Linked DNA regions of Homo sapiens. The protein of the gene in region 2 interacts with the protein of the main gene of each other region in a pairwise test. Each region holds a gene or a part of one and is shown on either strand. Other genes may lie near its edges.

The links. Proteins that work in one complex are often made in the same cells at the same time.
Region 1: the proteins of TXNDC11 (region 2) and RACGAP1 interact in a two-hybrid assay, tested with the Homo sapiens proteins (one large-scale study listed by BioGRID and IntAct).

What each region holds. Positions count from the first base shown.
Region 1 is NC_000012.12:49,994,363-49,998,014, forward strand, and holds part of RACGAP1 (rac GTPase-activating protein 1), read right to left. Parts: intron 2,843-3,652; coding exon 2,678-2,842; intron 148-2,677; coding exon 52-147; intron 1-51.
Region 2 is NC_000016.10:11,732,843-11,736,494, forward strand, and holds part of TXNDC11 (thioredoxin domain-containing protein 11), read right to left. Parts: intron 3,392-3,652; coding exon 3,175-3,391; intron 1,238-3,174; coding exon 1,140-1,237; intron 1-1,139. UniProt on the Homo sapiens protein: May act as a redox regulator involved in DUOX proteins folding. The interaction with DUOX1 and DUOX2 suggest that it belongs to a multiprotein complex constituting the thyroid H(2)O(2) generating system.

The DNA.
Region 1 (3,652 bases), on a different chromosome or scaffold from region 2:
TCCGAATTAACACAAATAACAAATTCACCATCTCCTACAGTTGACTCTTACCTCAGTCAGACCTCTTTGCTCAATCTCATTTACACAATGCACAACAATGGAGGGGATCATTGGAGAAGTCTGGGACACAAAGTCTGCCAGCATTCCCTGGAAAAAAAAAAGAGCTTTAAATTATTATTTACGCCATGTAGACCAACAGATGAAGACCACATGCGAAGAACCACCTCCAATCTTATTCTCAAACTGGGACATCATGTCTACTTTTACATTCCTATTCCCAAAGCATATATTAAAACAGAGACTCTCAATTATTTTTCCTACCTCCACACCAGGACTGATTTATTATCATATATACCACACTTTTTCTTTTTCATATATACACCACACTGTTATGTGAACAAGGAATAAGACCACCAGCTATAATTACCTCCTTCTCATCCACTCAAGGACAGCAGAAAACAAGCAATAATGAGGTTACAGGTATAGCCTTTAATATAAAATAATTTATTACTCTAAACAGATTTTTTTTTCTAACAGAAGAAAGCTGGAACAAGAGAAAAAAATTGTGTATACTTTCATTATTCTCAGTAAAAAAAATTATTTAACATATCTTATCAGTTGATTATGACACAAACCTACCTGTAGGGGAGAACTCCATGGTTCTATATTAGAGTACAGAACATGTGTAAAAAAAATGTACAGGCGGCCAGGTGCGGTAGCTCACGCCTGTAATCCCAGCACTGTAGGAGGCCGAGGTGGGCGGATCACCTGAGGTCAGGAGTTCGAGACCTGCCTGACTAACATGGAGAAACCCTGTCTCTACTAAAAATACAAAATTAGCCAGGCATGGTGGCGCATGCCTGTAATCCCAGCTATGAGGGAGGCTGAGGCAGGAGAATCGCTTGAACCCAGGAGGTGGAGGTTGTGGTGAGTCGAGATTGCGCCATTGCACTCCAGCCTGGGCAACAAGAACAAAACTCCCTCTCAAAAACAAAACAAAACAAAACAAAACAAAACAAAATGTACAGGCATGGATAAGAACTTGTAAGATCAGGGGAAAATAATATTTGATTTGCTGAAGAGTAGGTAGGAAGATAGTCATTTTGATTCTTGCTAATGTTACTTACATAATAATTTTTTTTTTTTTTGAGATAGGGTCTTGCTCTATTCCCCAGGCTGGAGTGCAGTGGTGTGATCACAGCTCACTGCAGTTTCAACCTCCCCACCTCAAGCAATAGTCCAACCTAGCCTCCTGAGGAGCTACAAACACAGGCGCACACCACTAACCTGGCTAACTTATTTATTTATTCTTTGTAGAGATGGAGTCTTGCTTTGTTGTCCAGGCTGGTCTCAAACTCTTGGGCTCAAGTGATTTTCCTGCCTCAGCCTCCCAAAGTGCTGGGATTACAGGCATGAGCTACCACACTCAGCAATAAATAATTTCTTAATGGATTTAATCAGTTTGGATTAAACTGGTTAAATATTTGGAAATAAGCAACTTCATTTTGATAACCTATTATGAAGTATGTCTAACATAAGAGCAAGAATAAAAGATAATTTTATCACAGATAAAATTATATGATAGCTGAGATTTGCTTCCAAGTAATTCATTGGACAGAGTCAGGAGGAGGCAACGACAGTATTGATAAATCAAGAACAGACATAAAGGCTGGGTGCCATGGCTCACACCTAGAATCCCAACACTTTAGGAGGCCGAGGCAGGCGGATCACTTGAGGTCAGGAGTTCAAGACCAGCCTGGCCAACATGGCAAAACCCCGTCTCTACTAAAAATACAAAAAAATTAGTTGAGCATGGTGGCACATGGCTGTAGTCCCAGCAACTTGGGAGGCTGAGGCATGAGAATCACTTGAGCCCAGGAGACAGAGGCTGCAGTGAGCCAAAGTTGCAACACTGCAATCCAGCCTGGACAACAGGGAAACTCTGTCTCAAAAAAAAGAGAGACATTAAAAAAAGAATGGACATGACCAGGCGCGGTGGCTCACGCCTGTAGTCTCAGCACTTTGAGAGGCTGAGGTGGGCGGATCACTTGAGGTCAGGAGCTTGAGACCACCCTGGCCAACATGATGAAACCCCATCTCTACTAAAAAATACAACCAAAAAAAATTAGCCGGGCATGGTGGTGGTACATGCCTGTAATTCCAGGTACTTGGGAGGCTGAGGCAAGAAAATCGCTTGAGCCCAGGGGGGCGGAGGTTGCAGTGAGCTGACATCCTGCCAGTGCACTCCAGCCTAGGCAATAGAGCTAAAAAAAAAAAAAAAAAAAAAAAAAAAAAAAAAAAAAAAATGGACACAAGTTAGTAATCATGGAAGTTAAGTGATAAGAACCAGGGGTTAGTTATACTAATTTCTCTAGTTTTATATATGTCTGAAATTTTCCAAAATGGGATGAAGGGGAGGAAGGAAGGAAGAAGAGGCAAGGAGAAGCAGGGAAGAGCAAGAAGGAAAAAGGGGCGGGGAAAGAAGTTTGGTTTAGAAAGGTATTAGACAGACAAACCCAAACAGGACTCTTCTACAAGTAAGTATCTTACAATTCTAGTCATTATTTGTGGAAAGAAATATATTTGAGATGATTAATTTTAGAACAAAAACTGACACTAAGCCTTTGAAAGGCGAATAAAGAGGCCATAAAACAATGACGGCTTGCATAAGTCATACCTCTCCAATCTTGACAGGTGTTCCTATCAGGGTAGGAATGCAGGGAAGGGGACAGCGGTCCCGACATTCTGGATGAGAGACCACACGACAGTCTCGACACTTCAGAGATAATTTGCCAAATTTTATCCGCTTTCCACATGGAACACAGGATTCAGGTTTAATAACCTGGGATAAAACAGGGCAGAAGGAACAGAGTGATATGAATTAGAAAATTATCATCATAATCAACTAACTTTTTTTTTTTTTTTTTTTTGAGACCGAATCTCACTCTCTCGCCTGGGCTGGAGTGCAGTGGTGTGATTTCAGCTCACTGCAACCTCTGCCTCCCAGGTTCAAGCGATTCTCCTGTCTCAGCCTCCCGAGTAACTGGGATTACAGGTGCCCACCACTACGCCCAGCTAATTTTTCGTATTTTTAGTAGAGACAGGGTTTCACCATGTTGGCCAGGCTGGTCTCGAACTCCTGACCTTGTGATTCACCCACCTCGACCTCCCAAAGTGCTGGGATTACAGGCGTGAGCCACTGGGCCTGGCCTTTTTTTGTCTTTTTTTGAGACAGAGTTTCGCTCTTGTTGCCCAGGCTGGAGTGCAATGGCGTGGTAGAGGTTGGCTCACTGCAACCTCCACCTCCCGGGTTCAAGCGATTCTCCTGCCTCAGCCTCCCAAGTAGCTGGGATTACAGGCATGCGCCACCACGCCCGGCTAATTTTTATATTGTTAGTAGAGACGGGGTTTCTCCATGTTGGTCAGGCTGGTCTCGAACTCCCGACCTCAGGTGATCTGCCTGCGTCAGTCTCCCTAAGTGCTGGGATTACAGGCGTGAGCCACTGTGCCCAGCCATAATCAACTAACATTTATTGAGCACTTAGTATGTGCCAAAAAATTTTCTAAGCCCTTTAGACATATTTACATATGTAATTCTCACAGTAATCCCATAAAATAGGTTTTGTTTTCTTCATTTTAAGATGAGGAAACA
Region 2 (3,652 bases):
TGATTATGGCCCAAGAACTTTAGAAGGAAAAAGGAAAGCTCTCTACTGATCAAATCTCCTTTACCCATTTTACTTTCAACAAACTTCAAGCCAATCACCCTGAACAAAGTCCAAAGTCCTATCTCCTATCTCCAAAACTCTTTGAGTCAGATTTTTAGACATTACTTATCATTCACAGCAGGGTCTGGGCTGTACTCTAGTACAGCCTAGGTCGAGACCAGCCTGGCAACATGGTAAAACCCCGTCTCTACTAAGAATACAAAAATTAGCCGGGCGTGGTGGCAGGCACCTGTAATCCCAGCTACTCGGGAGGCTGAGGCAGGAGAACGGCTTGAACCCTGAGGCGGAGGCTGCAGTGAGCCGAGATTGCACCACTGCACTCCAGCCTGGGCAACAAAAGCTAAACTCTGTCTCAAAATAAAATAAAATAAAATAAGATAAAATAAAACTCTTTCCGTTTTTCAGCCCTCTTTGTGACTTTAGAATTGTGGACATGGGCGGTAAAACCCTGTCTCTACTAAAAATACAAAAAAAATTAGCTGGGCAGGGAGGTGGGTGCCTGTAGTCCCAACTACTTGGGAGGCTGAGGCAGGAGAATGGCGTGAATCCGGGAGGCCGAGCTTGCAGTGAGCGGAGATCGCGCCACTGCACTCCAGCCTGGGCAACAGAGTGAGACTCCGTCTCAAAAAAAAAAAAGAATTGTGGACATGGGACTGTGTACTTGTAGTAATTTTCTTCCCAATAGAATAGATGGTAAGATACACTCTGGACTCTGCTATGCCTCCAGATGAAACGATAAGAAATTTTGTGTATTTTTACAAAACACTCTTACGATATCTGAAATGCATTGGAGTAATTCGTACTTTTAAAAACAATGCTGTAAAATGTGTAATGACATGAAAAGATGCTCAAAAAAGTGAGAAAAGCAGTTTAGGAAATAGTATTACTGCCTGATCCCATGTTTAGCTTTAAAAAGGGGGGTGGATTATCCAGATCTTTCTTTTTTAATTTTTGCTTATCTGTATTATCTGAATTTTCTATAGTGAATATCTAATACTTTAATATAGAAAAAATGCAAAATTCATTTATAAACTGGCAAACTAAACTGGAATGAGAGACGCTATTTAAAAAGTTCTTACCTCCGATGATACAGATATATTACAGGAAAATAAAAGAAGTGTTTCTGTTTTCTGCATTTCCCCTGGTTCCACCAACAGTTAATTGCCACAAACAACACCTGCAGAGCCAAAAAAGGTTTTCAAATGACTATGAATAACAACTGAAAAGTTACCAAGATTTAAAAGATGAAATTTAAAAATAGAATGATTCCTCTCTCACTGAAACAGAAACTATGAAAAAAACTGTTTTGAGTTTTCAAAGGTCATAATTTATCACTAAAACAAAAAAGAAAGACATACTCTTATCTATGATGTCCAGGCAGGACTTGGACCGTGTTTACCAATCTTACCATGCAATACAGTTCAAAAGATTTCTGTGTGTTTCCAAAAATAAACCCACTTTTTTCCCTACTGAGTACATGGAATAGTAAGCTCTCAATTTGGAAGGAGCTGAAATTTTTTTTTTAAAAAAAGCAGCAGTCCCTGGATTGCACTACAACCCCCACCACTACGTGATGGTAAACAAACTGCTTCACCCCTTATGCCTGCAGTCCTGCTTCAGAAAAACAGGGCTGACAGCATCGCCTTGCAAAGTGGTTGAGAATTGGCATGGGGCCTGGCACACCAGAATATCATTATTATTATACTAATGCCATCACTCAGAAGGACATACTGCTTAGGCTGACAGTAAGGTAGCTAATTCACACTTATTAATAAAACACAATAGATATCCCTCTTGTGCCCAACATGGGCAACGTGAACTTTGTTCTCTAAATTTGGAAGGCTCCACAGTTTCTAAGAAAAACCAAATGACAGTTCCAAATGAACTTCTGGAACTCAGCTGCCTACACACGTTACTTCACATCAGTGGTTCTGAGCAGGAGAGTCTTAGAAATCTGTGGGATGCTTTTGGCTTGCTACAATGACTGGGGGAAGCTACAGTGCATACGTAGGGCAGGGGTGTTGGTAGATGTCCTGCTACACTCAAACCTGCTTTGCACACGGAAGAGTCGTCCATAGCATTCCAGAGGAGTTCAAAACGCCTGCCAAACACTGATGTTGGGGAAAACCTGTTATTATCAAAGCCCAGTACCTAGCTCCATTTTACATGTGAATCTAAAGCATGCTTTTTGTGTTCACTGAATTTTTCAGGAATGCAACTTCTATGTAAACTGAGAGCAGAAAGGGCTTTGCATAGTTCAGGATTTTACCAAGACTGTTCACCATTTAGGATAATCAATTACTAAGAGCAATGTCCATGTGGCAGGTAAGTCACCAACATATCACCTTTATCAGTCTACGTTTGTAACTATCCCATTCAGTGATTCTACATAAAGGTATATGGACCTGTTCTGACTGTGCACTTACATACTAAAATATATATCATTTAGTTACAAATTACTTTCTTCCCCCCTCACCTCTATGTTACAATCCGTGCATTAGATTATTTTGAAATTACATGTATAGGAAAACTTTATCATCTATGAATTCCTTTTTAGGAAGAAAAAGGGACATCATAAAATACTTATTTTCTAAAGCACAACTGGGGTCCACTGGGCTGAAAACCACTGCCATAACAGGTGACTTATTTGCCTATATATCTTTCTTACCTAGCCCAAAGGTGGCATTCCTTATCTGCTGAATATAGTTCTGGTCCATATATTAAAAAGGTCGGCCTTGTTACAATGCAGTCATATCATACATACATTTTCTTACCTAAAATACCTAACTAGCAAGTATCAAATGGATATGCAAGAACTAGGATTTTCAGTCCCTCTACCTTTTTCAATGCTGAAACCAAACAGTATGGCACCCCAGGATAAGCATTGGCTTGTGTTATGAGATTCAGAATCTGCTCCCACACTTGCCTTGGAGTACAATCGCCACAATTGGAAATCCTTTCTGTTGCTTTATAGAAAGCTCTGTAACTTAGAAACGACTCCTGGAGTTCACCTTGGCAAAGTCTGCCCGTTGGGCAAGGTGTCTCTGTGGGGACATCCTGCCCTACATATAGGACTGACAGTCATTTGATTCTTAAGCTGAATGTGAGCATTACCTGATCTGAAAGCCGACTTGCTGCTTGCTCAATTTCTGCCCTGGCAGCGATGGACTGTCCACACCAAGGGGCATAGAAGAAGAGCAGTACCACCTCTGAATCCCGTCGAACGTACTCTGCATAATCCAGCTGCCCCTGGAAGAGGTCAAGGACTGGAGACCTCAAGGAGAAAAAGCTGACAGGTGGCTTTGCTGGTATTATCACATCTTTTGCTCGACTAAAAAAGAGCAAACACAGAAAAGATTGCTTAGTTTATCTTCTTCTAAAAATAGCTCTGTGGAAGTAGAATGAAGCTTAAAAGGAAAATCCTCTTTTGAATAAGAAAATGGAGTCCCAAAATCACTGCCCTAGAAAGGCAACATCTGGCTGAGCAAATGCAAGACATGAATAATACGTTGGAAACAATTCTCTGAGATTCTGTCCCCTAGGTGTAGGCTGGAAGGGCAGTGGAGAGCAGAGAAGGATGTCTCTGAATAAT